Linked DNA regions of Homo sapiens: region 1 is linked to region 2. The links come from fine-mapping of genetic effects on gene expression. A gene starts in region 2. The other region holds a variant in brackets. All regions are shown on one strand. Distances are from middle to middle.

Region 1 (8,252 bases), 22 kb after region 2:
GGTGGCACCTGGGACAGGGCCTTGCTGGGGGTGGGTGCTGTGGGTGTGCTCGCCAGGCCGAGGCATTGGGAAGGAACGAGGTGGGGAGCTCTCTGGAGAGGCACACGGGTGGGTACCAGCTGGAGGTGTTGCCTGAGCAGCTGGCAAGGCTGGGGCCTTCAGATTAGGCCATAGGTGAGTGGCCTGGAGCGCCTGGCCAAGGAGCAGAGCTGGGCAGGGGCCAGGGGCTGTGCTGGGCCTCTGTCCGGGGCTTTTCTCCGGGGAACGGTTCCGGGGCAGTGGGCTCGAGACTCTGGCCCTGGGGATTGCATACTGGGGCAGATCGGACCATCCAGGAGCGAGTGGGAGGTGGGTGTGCCGGGGCTTCACACCGGTTTCCACTTCTCTGGCCTGTGTTGACACAGGCCACCCTCCCCACCAGGCTGGTCCCGAGCCCCCTCCTGGCCCCCAGGCCTGGAAGACAGCTTCCTTGCTGCCTGGCCAGGCCCCCTTGTGGTTGCCAGGGCCTCGATGCTGGAATGTCAGAGGCCCCCCACTGGCCCCTCAGCCTCCTCCTGCTTTGCACAGGCTGGGCCAGAGCCTGCCACGGAGCCCCAGCGGCTACACACTCCACTCACTCACACCTCTCAGGGCCCCGCACGTTCCCACAGCCCTCAGGGTGTACGTGCTGTAGGTGTGGCTGTGCCCCAGGTATGTGTTCCCCAGGTGTGCTTGTGCCCCAGGTGTGGCTGTGCCCCAGGTGTGCGTGTGCCCCAGGTGTTCGTGTGCCCCAGATGTGGCTAGGTGTCTAGATGTGTTCTAGATGTCTGTGTATTCCAGTGTGGCTGTGTCCCAGGTGTGCGTGTGCCCCAGGTGTGTGCCTCAGGTGTGCGTGTGCCCCAGGTGTGGCTTTGCCTCCAGTGTGTGTGTGCCCCAGATGTATGTGTGCCCCAGGTGTGGCTGTGCCCCAGGTGTGCCTGTGCCCCAGGTGTGGCTGTGCCCCAGGTGTGCCTGTGCCCCAGGTGTGGGTGTGCCCCAGGTGTGGGTGTGCTCCAGGTGGCTGTATTTCCCAGGTACTCAGGGTGAGGTTGGGAAAAAAGCAGGACATTTCTACACTAGGTGGGACAAGCAGGTTTCTGGGGTGCCCCCCTCATGCCAGCCCCTCTGTGGGATCTCCATACCCCTCATCCTCTGAGGCCTGGCGCACGGCGGGGCTCAGAGACTGAAGGAAGGACTGTAGGAGTGGACGATGGTGGGGGTTTGACCTGACGCCGGGCCAGATGCCCTGTGTGGCTGCCTCAGCCTGGAGTAGAGTGTCTGAGCTGGAACAGGGGTCCTAGCCCCACTCTGTGAGGCGAGAAACTGAGGCTTGGAGAGAGGAAGAGATGGGGCTTCCCAGGACCTGGTGGGTGGTATGCAAGGGGAGCTGGCTGGTGCAGCGGGGGCTGTGGTGAGGGCCCTGGGAGGGGCAGGGGGATGCACGCAGACAGAGGCTCTGCCTGCCCGCAGAGTGCCAGCTGATGAAGACGGAGCGGCCCCGGCCCAACACCTTCATCATCCGCTGCCTGCAGTGGACCACTGTCATCGAACGCACCTTCCATGTGGAGACTCCTGAGGAGCGGTACGTGGGCTGTGGCGGCCAGGCCAGGCACTTGGGCAGCCCCAGCGCTTAGGAGGGACACGGGGATGGCGGGGTGCTGGCACCTCTGCCTGTAGCCATCCTCACTCCCCAGTGCTCCCAGGCCCTCCTCAGAGCCCAGTTTGGAAACTGGCCCAGTCCTGCCTGTGGGGTTTGGGTGGGGAAACTGAGGCTGGAGATAAAAACTGGCTAGGGACCGGGTGCAGTGGCTCACGTCTATAATCTCGGCACTTTGGGAGGCCGAGGTGCGCAGATCACTTGAGACCAGGAGTTTGAGACTAGCCTGCCAACATGGTGAAACCCCCGTCTCTACTAAAAATATAAAACTTAGCTGGGTGTGGTGGTGCACACCTGTAATCCCGGCTACTTGGGAGGCTGAGGCACAAGAATCGCTTGAACCCGAGAGGCAGAGGCTGCAGGAGCCGAGATTTTACCACTGCACTCCAGCCAGGGCGATAGAGCAAGACTCCGTCTCAAAAAAAGAAAAACCCGGTGGAGAGGGCCAGTCCTCCTTGGGGGGCGGAGTCCTGCTTGGGAGGCGGAGTCCTGCTTGGGGGGGGCGGAGTCCTGCTGGGGGGCGGAGTCCTGCTGGGGGTTGGAGTCCGGTTGTGGGGACAGAGTCCTGCTGGGGGGCTAAGCCTGGGTGTCCCCCACGTCCAAGAGGGCTTCGTGACCCTGAGTGTATGTGGCCAGACCAGGTCAAGTGGTGGCCTCCTCAGGGCTGTCTCTGGGAACCCCGACAGCTGTGGAACCACGCTTGTGAGGCTGGCGGGTGGGTGAAAGACGTGGGGTGGAGCTCCTGATCTGGTACAGGCCTGCAGCCTCACCTGACCTCCTGCAGGGAGGAGTGGACAACCGCCATCCAGACTGTGGCTGACGGCCTCAAGAAGCAGGAGGAGGAGGAGATGGACTTCCGGTCGGGCTCACCCAGTGACAACTCAGGGGCTGAAGAGATGGAGGTGTCCCTGGCCAAGCCCAAGCACCGCGTGGTGAGGCCTGTCCCCACTTCTGCCTGTGCCTGGGGCTGCCTTGGACTGTGGAGGGCTGGGTGGGTCATGGGGTCCCAGCTCGGCCCAGGAGACACTCAGCACTCCACGGCATCTCCACCTAGGCCGGTTTTCCATGTAGGGCGCAGCTGCTTCCCAGGTGGGTCCTCTTCCCCATGTCAGAGGAAAACTGGGGTTGCTGAGCCCTGCCAGGCTTGGGCAATGTTACCCCACCCTTCCCTGAACCCCATGCTCTGAGCTGGGGCCGCAGCCATGTGTTCCCTGTAAGCCTGGACTCCCCGCTGAGCCCAGTAGGCCACCAGGTGTGAAGTGGACGCCTCTCCTGGCTCTGCCTCCGACTCTGGGGCCCCTCATGCCACCCCACGCATGCCGACCAGCTGGGCACTGTTGGCAGCGCCGCTTGCTGACCCTGGTGCCTGCCCATAGACCATGAACGAGTTTGAGTACCTGAAGCTGCTGGGCAAGGGCACTTTCGGCAAGGTGATCCTGGTGAAGGAGAAGGCCACAGGCCGCTACTACGCCATGAAGATCCTCAAGAAGGAAGTCATCGTGGCCAAGGTGGGGCCGGGGCGGTGGGGCAGGGTGGAGATGAGGGTGCGGGGTGGCAGCTCACCCAGCCCTGCTTTACAGGACGAGGTGGCCCACACACTCACCGAGAACCGCGTCCTGCAGAACTCCAGGCACCCCTTCCTCACAGTGAGTGGGAGCCCAGATGGGGCTGAAGGGCTGGGGCCAGGTAGCGACTCCTGGGGCTGTCTCTAGGGGACGATGTCCTGTCTTCTTGGGCACGTGAGGGCTTTACACACCGTGGACTCCGCCGCTGGTGAGACAGGCCTGCCCTGGAGGGTCAGGCTGTGGAGGTGCCCAGTGTGGGCTAGGGGCTGTGCTCGCTGCTCCCGTGTGCGGGCAGGTGGGTGGGGCAGGTGGCCCTGGTCTTCCTTGCACTCTGCCGAGGCTCCAGGAGGCCCCAGCTCCCCATGCCCTGCAGCCCTGCCTGCCAGGCTTTTGTTGAGGCCCGGGCTCTGTCCTGCAGAACCTGTTCTGGGGACTTGGCCCAGGAGGTATTTACTGTGAAGGGGGCCAGG[G/C]TCCAGCCACTTGGTTAGTTCCAGGTCACTGTGTTTGGGGACGATTCTCCTGCAGATGGGGCCTTTGCTTTAAAAGCACAGTCGCCTGTGGTGGAAGGCGGGAGGGTGGGTCTCGCCTGGGAGGGTGTGTCCTCCCTTTGCGAAGGCCCTGGTGCTGGGAGCACTGTCCCCTGCTGAGGTCCCAACTCACCCTGGAGGACCTGAGCCCAGGCCACCTTGCTCACCTTTCAAACACTCCTTGGCACCTCAGGGGCTGCCGGGGCCCAGCCTGATGGTGGCGTGGCATGAGGCAGTGTGGTGTGGGGCAGTGTGGTGTGGGGCAGCGTGGCATGGGGGCAGTGTGATGTGGGGGTGTATGGTGTGGGGCAGTGTGATGGGGTGTGTGGTGTGGGGCAGTGTGGTATCGGGCGGTGTGGTATCAGGCAGCGTGGTGTCGGGCAGTGTGGTGTGGGGCTACGGGCGGTGTGGTATCAGGCGACGTGGTATCAAGCAGCGTGGTGTCGGGCAGCGTGGTGCGGGGCTGCCGTCCTGCCTGTGGGGCCGCAGTTCCAGCTCCCCTTCCTTGCAGGCCCTGAAGTACTCTTTCCAGACCCACGACCGCCTCTGCTTTGTCATGGAGTACGCCAACGGGGGCGAGGTAGGGGCTGGGGCTGCGGGGGATGGACTTCGCGGCCTGTGGGCCGCCCATGGTGGGGCCGGTCCTTCCCGGAGCCTCGGCTACTCTCCATGGCACCAGACGGTGCTCCCTGCTGGGTGGGTGGTGTGATGCCTGCCCAGGCAGCTGCCTGCTGTGGGGTGACTTGTTCCTGCTGAGTTAGGGCTTCTGAGACTTTCCAGGCCCCCGTGCCCTCTGGTGGCTGGTCCCTTCCCTGTGCAATGCCGAGACCCGGTCTGAGAAACCCCAGCCCTGCAGGCCATGGGGGCAGAGGCCCGAGCCACGGCTGTGCCTCAGGTTGCGCCTCCCGCAGCTGTTCTTCCACCTGTCCCGGGAGCGTGTGTTCTCCGAGGACCGGGCCCGCTTCTATGGCGCTGAGATTGTGTCAGCCCTGGACTACCTGCACTCGGAGAAGAACGTGGTGTACCGGGACCTCAAGGTGCGCTGGCGGGCAGGCAGGGGGGCAGGGCCCTGGGGGCCTGGCGGCACTGACCTGAGGCCACCTTTCCCCTAGCTGGAGAACCTCATGCTGGACAAGGACGGGCACATTAAGATCACAGACTTCGGGCTGTGCAAGGAGGGGATCAAGGACGGTGCCACCATGAAGACCTTTTGCGGCACACCTGAGTACCTGGCCCCCGAGGTGTGCGCCCCACCTGCGTGCATACGCGTTGCTGCGTCCCCACGTCCTGAGCACACGCAATGCTGTGTCCTCTCTGTGCCCCAAGCACGTCACACCTCCCCCGGCAGTGTCCCGGACACCCCTTGATGCCGAGTCCTGCCCATCTGCCACCCGTGCAGGTGCTGGAGGACAATGACTACGGCCGTGCAGTGGACTGGTGGGGGCTGGGCGTGGTCATGTACGAGATGATGTGCGGTCGCCTGCCCTTCTACAACCAGGACCATGAGAAGCTTTTTGAGCTCATCCTCATGGAGGAGATCCGCTTCCCGCGCACGCTTGGTCCCGAGGCCAAGTCCTTGCTTTCAGGGCTGCTCAAGAAGGACCCCAAGCAGAGGTGAGGGCCGCCCATCCCAGCTACAGGCTACACCTCCATCCCCTCATCCCCAGGCTGCACCTGCCCCTGCGCCAGGCGGTCCTGGCACCTCCCAGACTACACTGATAGCCAAAGCTTGATGTCCTTGGCCAGGGCTGATCTCCAAAGCCTCAGGCCCAAGCAGAGTGGCGGGCAGGCCGGGGTCAGTTGGGCCTCTGTCCCCAACCCTGCAGCCTGCACCCACCCACTCAGGAAGCCCCTGCCCTGCCGTGAGCTCTGTGGTGCTTTGCTACCCACAGCTGCTCAGGGACGCTGCACCACCGGCTCCCCTCCCTGGCCCCGGAACGTCCTGTCTGGCGGGCCCTACATCACAGGAGGAAGGGGCCTGAACCCAGGGCCTGGGCAGGTGGCGGTACCGACACTGTGGCCTTGTTTCCTGCCTGCAGGCTTGGCGGGGGCTCCGAGGACGCCAAGGAGATCATGCAGCATCGCTTCTTTGCCGGTATCGTGTGGCAGCACGTGTACGAGAAGAAGGTGCGGCTGCTCCCCGCATATTCACGCGCACGCATGCTCCCCACATATCCACACTCACGCATGCACGTGGCACGCTCGCCAGATTTCCCACACACTCGCCCTCACCTCAGGAGCCTGCTGCAGTCCTGGTACAAGGAGGGCCTTGCTGCACCAACCTCAGCGCCTGGTGCTCAGAGGCTCTGGCACTGCCGGGTTCCACCAGGAAACTGGCCTGGTCCTCATTTCCTCCTCCCCTCGGAGGTGTGTCACACTCTGAGTTTCCTCCTCCCCTCGGAGGTGTGTCACACTCTGAGTGCCAGCCTTGGGGTTCCCTTCCCTGACGCTGTGCAGTGAAGGCTGGCTGGTGGTGGACCAGGGGTGCTGCCCCTTGGCCTCCACGAGTTCCTCCTGTTTGACCTCAATCCCTTCTGCCGCAAGGAGAGCCCAGCCCTATTTCTGGCTGTGCAGGGACAGGGACAGCACCTACTTTTCTGGCACATGGGGGAGTCCGCCCTGGAGGGAGGCAGCTCTTTCTGCATGAGTCGCCATCCTGGGTGCTCATCTTTCAGGGACCCTAGGAGCCCTGGCCATCACCCCAGCTGATGGGGTCTGCCAGCTGGGTTCGGAAGCCTGCACTCTGAGATGCTGGGTGCCCTGTCACCAGGTGTGCTTCTGCCCCGTTCCCAGCCTGCCCCTCCCCTGAATGCCTGTCCTAGGCTGTGTGCAGCTGGTCGGGCTGGGCAGCCCTGGGACCCAGCTGGGCACCTGTTCTCCCATTAACACAGGGTGCCCTGGTCCTGGTCCCCGTTCCTGCCTTGAGGCCTGCCACCCTCCTGCCCTGCCCTCCAAGGGTATGGGGGGCCTGGGCAGTGCTCAACCTCTGCCCAGCCTTGACCAGAGACCTTGCTAATTGACAATGGACAATGCTGGTGCCCAGCCCAGACTCTGGGGTGGGGCAGTGCTTGAGGGGGTCCTTGACTGTGGGACCTGAGGGGCTCTCTGGCAGCTCCTCACGTGTGCACATCACCTTATAGTCACCCTTCATCCTGGGTCATTGAGAGTCCTGTCTGCAGCCAGATGCCAGCAGGCTGTGGTCCTGTAGTCCCTGAGCCATGGAGGCAGGGTGGGCTCATCCTGTGCACCTTGTTCCACAGTCTCCCTCTTTCCCAATTTACAAGAAGACCAATAAGAAAAATAAGAAAACAAGAAAGAAAAAGGAAAAATAAAGTTATCACCTCCTGGTAGCAGGGAGGGTCTCTCAGAGCTGGGCTGCACTACCTCCTGTCGCCTGCTGGGGCTGCTGTGAGGGCAGCTTTGCGTCTCAGCTGTTGAGGGTTGTCTCCGTGCTCCTGCACCCCTCATGTCCCTCCCTCCCAGAGCTGCCTCTGTGGGGGGCTGGTGGCTTGCTGCTCTCTGACATCAGTCCTGCCTGGAGACCCCTTGGAGATCCAGGTGCTTTGAAGGTCTTGAGCACACTTGAGGGTGTGCTGGGAGTGGGGAGCGAAGCTCATGACTGTCCCGTCTGCCCACCTCTGCAGCTCAGCCCACCCTTCAAGCCCCAGGTCACGTCGGAGACTGACACCAGGTATTTTGATGAGGAGTTCACGGCCCAGATGATCACCATCACACCACCTGACCAAGGTGAGGGGCCACTGCCTGCCCCCGCCCACTCCCTTTTCTCTCCACACTCAGAGAGGCCTGCAGTGTTCAGCTTTTTTGGCTTCAGATGTTTTAAAATCTAAATATTTAAAAAGGTTCCTTTTGGAGAGTGCCAATGATCAGGGTGGGAGGCAGTGCTCTGAGGGCCCAGGTCCCTGTGTCAATCTGTGGGGCCCTGTCTCAGTTTCCTGGCAGTATGGCAGCGTGCTGGCCGTGCTTTAAGAGGTTGGCTTCCTACTGGAGCTGTGGGTGGGTGGAGGTGGCAGGGAGGTGGGGCACCGGGGTCTGAGCTGTCTACACCCACAGATGACAGCATGGAGTGTGTGGACAGCGAGCGCAGGCCCCACTTCCCCCAGTTCTCCTACTCGGCCAGCGGCACGGCCTGAGGCGGCGGTGGACTGCGCTGGACGATAGCTTGGAGGGATGGAGAGGCGGCCTCGTGCCATGATCTGTATTTAATGGTTTTTATTTCTCGGGTGCATTTGAGAGAAGCCACGCTGTCCTCTCGAGCCCAGATGGAAAGACGTTTTTGTGCTGTGGGCAGCACCCTCCCCCGCAGCGGGGTAGGGAAGAAAACTATCCTGCGGGTTTTAATTTATTTCATCCAGTTTGTTCTCCGGGTGTGGCCTCAGCCCTCAGAACAATCCGATTCACGTAGGGAAATGTTAAGGACTTCTGCAGCTATGCGCAATGTGGCATTGGGGGGCCGGGCAGGTCCTG
Region 2 (8,275 bases):
AGACAGTCGGAAGCCCTCCAGAGCCCAGGGTAGGCAGGAACGTGTTCAAAGAGGAGGAGACTCCGGACAGGGGCTGGCATGGGAGTGGGGGTAGGGAGGAGTGGGGGAAAGTGTTCTAGGGCAAAGAAGCATTGAGAAGATGTGAGGGGGACGCCTGGTTGTGGGAGAGGGAATCGCCAGAGAAGTAGAGAGTGTGTTTGGCGGGGTTAGGGTCCCTCCCAGGCAGATGGAGCCTTTTCCCAGGGGCACAACCTGGGCTGCCCTTGACTGAGCAGGTTTGAAGGTACTCTAGACCACCGGATCATCTTCACAACAGTCCCATTAACTAGACGCTCTTATTTTCATACCTTTTTGGTGAGAGAGTTTAGGTAAGGTACCCAGAGCCATGTATCAGGCAGTAAGTCACTGAACCACGATTTGAATTCAGCCGGTCTCATTCTTCTCTGCCTTGGAGTCCGGGAAATGGAGAATGTAGTGGAGGAGTCACCCCAGTCAAGGCCAAGCAGTGGGGTGGGGGTGGTGCTGGAAGAGGGGCTGGATCACAAAGGACAGGACCCGGCCAGGTATGTGTGTGCAGGAGGAGTGGAGCCCACAGTGGGATCTGAAGTCTGGGAAGGAAGGCCTCGTTGTTATACTAAAATATCATTCCTTGTTTCACCGGATGGACTGCATCTTTATTTCCTAAACCTGGCAACTGCAGCTTGGACCCCTGGAATGACACTGCACTTACAGCCACTGAGACTAGCTTAGGGACGGCAGAGGCCTGGCTCCCACTGCCGCCGGCCATCCACCCTAAGGACCCCTTCCTGAGGAAGGTCAACTCCCCTCTCTCCACGCATTTAAATAATCATCTGCCTTGCCCCAGCCACCAGCAGGAATAGCTGAATTCAAGTAAGTTAAGGGTGAACTCAGATGTGACTGCTCCCTTCCTGCCCTGCCTGGATCACAGCCCTGCCCCGGCCCCTCCCAACCTTGAGCACGACCAAACCTTTAACCTCTTTGAACCTCAGTAATCCTCATCTGCAAAATGGGAGTCAGAGTGCATCCCGGGGTCTTCGTGAACATTAACGACAGGGCCTGGCACTCAGCAAGCTCTCAGGCTCTGGAATGTTCTTCCCCAAAGAACCCTTCACTGGTTTCTCTTCATCCCTGTCTCTGCTGAAAGTCCACTCCTTAGTCAGGGTGGCCATTCCTGCCCACCTTCGCTAAGTTCCCTCGCAGTCCCTTCTGCTGCATACCCTCCTTTCCAGCCCATTCCGGGTGTCCTGTGATTGTGGGATATTCCAGCACCTTCTGAAAGGGAAGGGGCTGTTTGGTCACTTGGTGCTTAAAAGTTGGCAGGACGCAAGTGGGTGTTCAGTAAATGTTTGTTGAGTGAATGTGTGACGGTTGCTTCTGTGAGTGATTACGATGGTCCCACCATCCCTAATCCTGACTCCTCTGTGGCAACATTCCAGCCCTGCCTGCCCACACCCCCAGCCCCTGAACCTTCAGAGCAAGTAGGGGTGGCCTGCCACACTGGGGCTCTGGGCAACAGGCTGACAGCTCCCCACTGCAGGCTGGGAGCAAGCACCCTAGCCTGCCCTGCCTGGCTGGCGGGACAGAGAGAGCCTGGACACTTAATGGGGGTTGTGGTACACAGGGAGGGTCAGGATGCTGCCTTCAGGAGCCTAGGGTAGGACCTGGAAGGAGGGCCCAGCTAGGAATGGGCTAGATGAAGGGGAGGGGACAGTGGGAGAGAAGCTCCTTATCCCTCTCAGGTCGGGATGTCTGGGTTCAAGTCCCTCCTGCCCCACACCGATCAGGGAAGGGGGGCTGTTCCAGGCAGAGACCGCCCAGAGTTGGTGCTGGGATCCTGGCCAGCCTGTAGTCCTCAGAGCCCCTGTGACTGGCTGGGTCTCAAGTGCAGGAATGACAGGACACCGTCACACAGCCACTGTCGCGGCGGTGGTGGTTCAGGCAGAACCTCTGCAGACTCAGGCGGCCATCTGGCCTGGGAGCTGCCCTGAGGCCCCGCCCTGCAGCTGCTGCTGGGACCTACACAGCCCAGGGCCCTCGAGTCCTGCCCCCGGCCAGCAGCTGCAGAAGGTGACAGGGCAGGAGGCCCCTGAGCTCTGGGAGGAGGCAGCCGTCGGGCCCTTCCCTGGTGCAGCAGTTTTTGTCGGAAACATCTGGCCACAGAGCACCTCAGCAGTCCCAGCAGCAGCCGTGGGGCTGGGTTCTCTCCTGACCATTCTGTCTGGGGTGGGAGGGGGTGTTCTTGAAGAGAGGACTCTGCTTTCCCTCTGGGACGCTGGAGGAGAGGGAGATGGCCCTGCCCACTGGGAGATCCCCGTCTTGGGGGAGGGCAGTTCATGCCAAGGTGAAGACAGGACTGGAGTGTGGGGCCCACAGTGGGTTGCAGGCACCAGCAGATGCCAGGGCACCAGGCTGGGAAGACTGGGAGGCCTCCTTGGAGACAGCCAGTGCAAAATAAGCAAGAGGTCCAACCACTTCAAGAACAGCCCGCAATGTCACTGCCTCTTCCATGAGAGGGTGCCCTGCTCCCTCCCACATCCCCAAGCCTCGGCCACTTGCTGGCCTTGTCTCATGGCCCTCTTACCCTCTGCTTCCTCCCTGAATTCCTTCCTCCATCCTTGCATGGCAGAGCCCAGGATGGTGGACAGATACCAGGAACTCTTCCTCGGGGAGCAGTGGGCAGGTGGGACAGTCCCAGAGGGAGCCCCAGGTGGCTCATGGTGCAGGTTTGCTGGGTGAGAGACAGACACCAGACGCCCAGGCTCTGGGGGCAACCCTTGTGTCAGGTATCCCACCCAAGCGGCGCAGACCACTGGGCCTCTGACTTGGCCCCCTGGAGGTGGGCCCTTCCTGGGGTTACAAAGTCTGAGCTGGGAGGGAGCAGAGGTGCTCAGGCGAGAGGCAGGAATGGGGAGTCCCCTGTCTGAGGAGCGAGTGCCCTCATGCAGGGGGAGAGAGTCCTTCTCTTGGTCAGCCCCAAGAGGCAGGGATGAAGCCCGAGTTTTGGCTGCAGACTCTGTCCTGAGCACTGGGCCGAACCTGCTGCCTCTGTCTGCATCTCCTCCCACCCCCTCCCCTGCTGCCAGCTGAACTCACTCTGGCTGAAAATAAAAATGCTCCCCCAACCCCAATACTTAGCAGCCTCAGGAAGGTAACTCACAAGAGTCTGTCTTTCACAAAAGGGTTATTATCAACTGTGGGCCTCTGGAATGGGGGAGGGGCAGTTGTCGGAGGAACTTCTGGCTAGGAAGGGGTCGGGGTGGCAGTCACCTGCACTCTCCTGTGAGTGTCCAGGAGAAAGGGGTCTGTGTCCCACTTACTCATTCCATACCCGGGCCATCTGCCTCCCAGTGGACTTCGGACTGGGTGTCCGGGCTGACCAAGTCCACCCAGCAGGGAGGGCTCTGGGCTGTCAGCTGTCACAGCCCACCCTAGACACCGCTCCTCCTCTGTCTGGTGTCTGCTCCCAGCTCAAGGTGGGAGCCAGGCAAGGTGTGCCCCTCTTCTCCCACTCCCCAGCAAAGTCCCCCTTTTGTGAGTGTAGCTGCCAGTACCTAGGTGAATGGTTGACTCCCCTCGGAGCCTTCCTGCTCCTTGGAGGCCCACCTCCAACTGACCTCCTGTCCTGGCATCCTCCCGCACTTCCCCCAGAGGCACAAGGTCTTGGGATTGGGCCTTTTAGGTCACTCTTGGCCGCCCCCTCCACGCCCCCCAGAGTGGGGCAGCCTGAAAGTCAACCTAAGCCACCCCCGCCCCGCGCGCGGAGGCAGAAGTCCGGGATTCGTCCCTGACCTGTCTCGGGCCCCTTCTGCTAGGGTCACGGCAGAGCGAGCCCAGAAGCGCCGGGTCACTTTACAGACGGGGAAACTGAGGCCAGAGAGGGCGTGGCCCCGGGACGGGCTGGCTGGTGGCCGGGCTCCGTTAGCGGCCCAGCCCAGGCCCCAGGTCGTCGGGAGCTGCCCCTCAGCCCGGCCGCGCGCTCCCCGAGCGCGCTCCGCCCTCGCCGCCGGCCGCGCGGTGGGGACGCCCCGGGCGGCGGAGGCGGATGTGGGCGGGCGGCTCCGGGCGCGGGGCGGGCGCGGGGCGGGGAGAGGGCGGGCCGGCGGCGGCGGCAGGACCGAGCGCGGCAGGCGGCTGGCCCAGCGCACGCAGCGCGGCCCGAAGACGGGAGCAGGCGGCCGAGCACCGAGCGCTGGGCACCGGGCACCGAGCGGCGGCGGCACGCGAGGCCCGGCCCCGAGCAGCGCCCCCGCCCGCCGCGGCCTCCAGCCCGGCCCCGCCCAGCGCCGGCCCGCGGGGATGCGGAGCGGCGGGCGCCGGAGGCCGCGGCCCGGCTAGGCCCGCGCTCGCGCCCGGACGCGGCGGCCCGGTGAGTCCCCGCCCGCCGTGGCCGCCCGGGCCTGGATTTCCTCCCCGCGGGCCGGGCCGCTTTGTTCGCGGCCGGTCGGGCCGGGGCGCGAGCCGCGGCGCCGCCAGAATGGAGGAGCGGGAGCAGGAAGTGGCCGAGCGGGCCTGGGCGGGGAGGGCGCGGGGCGCGCGGGCCCGGCCAAGGGAGGGCGGCCCCACGCCGGGCGCCGGGGGTGCAGGCTGCCGGCCCCAGCCTCCCTCATGACCTTGGGGAGGCCGCTCCGCCGGGCGAGGCCGGGACCCGAGAGAAGGGACGCCGCCGGGCCTGGAGCTGGGGCTCGGGGTGCCCCTGCGGGCCGTGGGGCTCCCCGGGCGCTGGGCCAGCGAGGCAGCCGGCGGAGGTGCCCCGGGGTTGGAGAAAGACTCGCCGCGGCCGGCCTTCAAGTTTGTGGGAGGGCCCCGGAAGGAGACTTCGTTTCCCACGGACGAAAAGTTGTACGTGGTGGCGGGGTACCCAGGCTAGCCACAAAGGACTGTGACCCTCCTGGGCCCCGGAACTGCTTCCTGTCTTGGGTGGGCCCTGGAGGTCCTGCCCGCCCATCCCAGAGGCCAAGGCTTGGAGGGCAGCTGGGGCTTGCCCCTTAGATTGAGTATCCTGGGGCGCTAGCGAGCTTGGTCCTGTCGGGACGGCCTCTGAGTGCTGCCTTGGTCAGCGGGTGAGCTTGGGCCCCTGCTCTGCAGCCAGAGGCCGCCCCACATTCACTCCTGGGTCTCTCGGCCTTGCTCCAGGTGGCCACTTCTTGACTGCTTTGAGTCCCTCATCCGAGCGAAGGGCGGACGGAGTCCGTTGGTGGGGGTCCGGTTGCCTCTCCCGGGAGCTGTGTAGACTTCTCATACACCAGGGTTCTGGAGGCAGATGGAGGAGCCCTTTCGAAAACAGAGTATTTTTTTTTAAGTTGTGACTTAATAATAGTAGCAAGAATATGTGCTTATGGTAAAGGCAGGCGGCAGGTACGGAGGCTGTGGGAAGTCGGGGTCCCTCCGCCCCCACAGGCAGCCCTGTGCTGGCCTGGTGTATACGTTTCTGTGCAGACGTACACCACCCTGTGTGAGCACAGATGTATTTTTACACATGGCTCTGGACAGCTGTCTGACTCTGTCAGCAGCAGGCCTTGGAGGGGCTCAGGCCCGTGTGGGGGTGGGGGGACATCCAGAGGTCTTTGAGTCCAGCCCTCTGCCTCCAGGCCACGCCCACTCAGTGTCGTCAGAGCCCCCTGTGCCTGAGGCGTGCGCGGCTCGGAGCCCTGCCCTCGGAGTCCTGCGGTGCCTTCCTCGAGTCTGGCCTGCTTTCCATCCTGCTAAGTACTTGGGGCATTTCCCTCTTTGGGTAAGGTGTGGTCTTCCCTGTCCTGGCATTAGACACAAGGCAGTGGGCCTTCCTGCCATTCTAAGTGTAGCTTAAGACAATCAGTGCAAAGCAACCCTTTGTGGGTGTCCAGCCCTTGCCTCGGGAGGCCAGAAAGGTGGCCTGGGGGGAGAGCGTCTAAGCTGGCTGTGGAAAGACCCATGTTGGGATCCATTCCACAGAGGTCGTCAGGGGTCTCTGCCTGGCCTGGAGGTCCCAGAGAGGACCCTCCTCCCCTCAGGAAGGCCCATCTGGAAGGGTAGCAGAGGACTGCTCACAGGAAGAGCATGCGAAGTGCTCTTTCTGGGGATGCCTGTAGTTGGTGATGTGGGAACTGGGTTTTGAGGGATGCCTAGGAGTTCATCCATCAGAGGGGAAATGAGGAAGCCATGCAGGATCAATGGATAAAGTGTGCTCAGGTGAGGGTTGGCTGGTGGGCCGCTGCAGGGCGGGGGCCTGTCCAGTGCTCCCCCACTTACTTGCTGCCTCCCGACTGCTGTAATTATGGGTCTGTAACCACCCTGGACTGGGTGCTCCTCACTGACGGACTTGTCTGAACCTCTCTTTGTCTCCAGCGCCCAGCACTGGGCCTGGCAAAACCTGAGACGCCCGGTACATGTTGGCCAAATGAATGAACCAGATTCAGACCGGCAGGGGCGCTGTGGTTTAGGAGGGGCCTGGGGTTTCTCCCAGGAGGTTTTTGGGCTTGCGCTGGAGGGCTCTGGACTCCCGTTTGCGCCAGTGGCCTGCATCCTGGTCCTGTCTTCCTCATGTTTGAATTTCTTTGCTTTCCTAGTCTGGGGAGCAGGGAGGAGCCCTGTGCCCTGTCCCAGGATCCATGGGTAGGAACACCATGGACAGGGAGAGCAAACGGGGCCATCTGTCACCAGGGGCTTAGGGAAGGCCGAGCCAGCCTGGGTCAAAGAAGTCAAAGGGGCTGCCTGGAGGAGGCAGCCTGTCAGCTGGTGCATCAGGTTAGGGAGGCTGGGAAGGCCTTTTGGGGATGGGGGTGATTTGTCCAACGGCTGGGGGAGGTGGGAATGGGGAGGTGAGCAAGGCAGCAGCTCTCAGGGCCTGGCTGTTGCGGGTGGTGGTGGCAGGGGCTGGAGGCTCTAAGCCTAGAATAAGGAGAGGCCCAGGTCCAGGGAACTGTGTTCAATTACATGGATTTGACACTTGGCAGCCCTGAGTGTTTTGGGGAGAGGGAAGGCAGGCGGGCAGATGGGGGTCAGAGAGCTTAGAGGGATGGCAGCCCACCTGGGAAGGCAGGTGCGGGTGGAGCCCCCAGGCACGTGCAGTGGGTCTCTGGCTCACCCAGGGCGAGGAGCTGCCCTTAGCCAGGCGTGGCCTCACATTCAGCTTCCTTTGCTTCTCCCAGAGGCTGTGGCCAGGCCAGCTGGGCTCGGGGAGCGCCAGCCTGAGAGGAGCGCGTGAGCGTCGCGGGAGCCTCGGGCACCATGAGCGACGTGGCTATTGTGAAGGAGGGTTGGCTGCACAAACGAGGTTAGTACCCGCTGCCAGGGCTGGGCCTGGGGAGGGAGAGATGGGGGTAGTAGCCCCAGGGTCTGTGAGTGCCTGTGCCCTGCTGGGTGGGAGGGGCTGCCTCCCCTGGGGCTCCTGGGCTGGCCTAGGGTGAGTGTCCTGGGCCCCATGTCTTCCCATGGCATGGAGGGCACGGCCTCGGGGAGGCCAGGAGGATGAGGCCCTGTGCAGGGCCGGCCATCTGAGTGGCTTCCTGGTGTGGGCCCTGGCAGGCGGGGGAGCTGCTGCCAGCCTCTCTCCTGGCTTTCCTGGAAGGCAGCGAGGACACTGGGCTGTTCCAGGGTCTGGCACGCTGGCGGCCCAGGGCACTGCCCAAGGGCTCCTGAGGGCAGGGCAGGGCTGCTTGGCTTGGCCTGGTGCCTGCTTCAGGCCTGAGCTTTGGGGGTGGGGGGAATCCGTACCGCCTGGGCACAGGGCATGTTTGCCTTGGAGCTGCAGAGCTGGCTGAGCCAAGTCCCCCAGCCCCTGTGTCCCCCTCCTCACTCATTTGGCCTTGCAGCCTATGGAGGAGGTGCTGCCCGAGGGGCCTGGCCAGCAGCTGGGTGGGATGGGAGCTGGGGACATAGCCCCACCCCTTCCAACCCTGTGCAGGCCCTTCTGCCTCACCCACCCTCCGTTGCTCAGCGGGGTGCGGTGGAGTCTGGGTGGCTGTTTTGCTCCTCTGTCCTGCTAGGGTGGGCTTCCTGTTCAGGTCCAGGTCCTCTGGCCAAGTCACTCTCTTCTGCCCCAGGCGGAATCGGTCCGCCCTCTCCTGACTTCTTTTTCCAGACTTGTTCCCTCCTAAGTTCTAGTGATCTCATGCCAGCAGCCCCCCGGCTTTACGTACACCCTCTAGCAGATGGGTTTCACATCTGGTAGTGGGGAGACCCCAAACACAGCTGGAGCAGACAGGGAGGTGTGGCAAAAGTAGGTGTCACAAGATGGGGCATTGTGGGATGTATAGGAGCTCACAGAAGAGCAGGC

Direction of the effects. Alleles are on the strand shown, and positions count from the first base shown. SD is a standard deviation of normalised expression in the study named.
In carriers of allele G in region 1, the expression in thyroid of the gene that starts at base 4,123 in region 2 tends to be lower than with C alone (moderate effect, 0.69 SD a copy in GTEx).

What was found. PIP is the estimated chance that this variant, and not a neighbour inherited with it, causes the effect.
Region 1: its variant is fine-mapped to the expression of AKT1 in thyroid (GTEx, PIP above 0.99).

What each region holds. Positions count from the first base shown.
Region 1 is chr14:104,770,007-104,778,258 of GRCh38, reverse strand. AKT1 (AKT serine/threonine kinase 1) reads left to right here. Exons shown (of 15, transcript NM_001382430.1): 5 at 1,489-1,600; 6 at 2,460-2,607; 7 at 3,052-3,183; 8 at 3,256-3,321; 9 at 4,279-4,347; 10 at 4,679-4,804; 11 at 4,880-5,008; 12 at 5,167-5,381; 13 at 5,807-5,894; 14 at 7,412-7,514; 15 at 7,839-8,252. The coding sequence ends at 7,918. Among named protein-coding and RNA genes, the nearest start is that of SIVA1, 21 kb to the right of the region's middle. The variant G/C (reference allele first, on the strand shown) is at 3,711.
Region 2 is chr14:104,791,596-104,799,870 of GRCh38, reverse strand. It overlaps AKT1 (AKT serine/threonine kinase 1), which reads left to right and starts at 4,123. Exons shown (of 15, transcript NM_001382430.1): 1 at 4,123-4,387; 2 at 6,567-6,744; 3 at 7,149-7,273. The coding sequence starts at 7,228. RefSeq lists enhancers at 1,429-2,201, 2,202-2,974, 5,016-5,657, 5,658-6,297, 6,298-6,939 and 1 more and silencers at 3,812-4,171, 4,352-4,401, 4,432-4,751.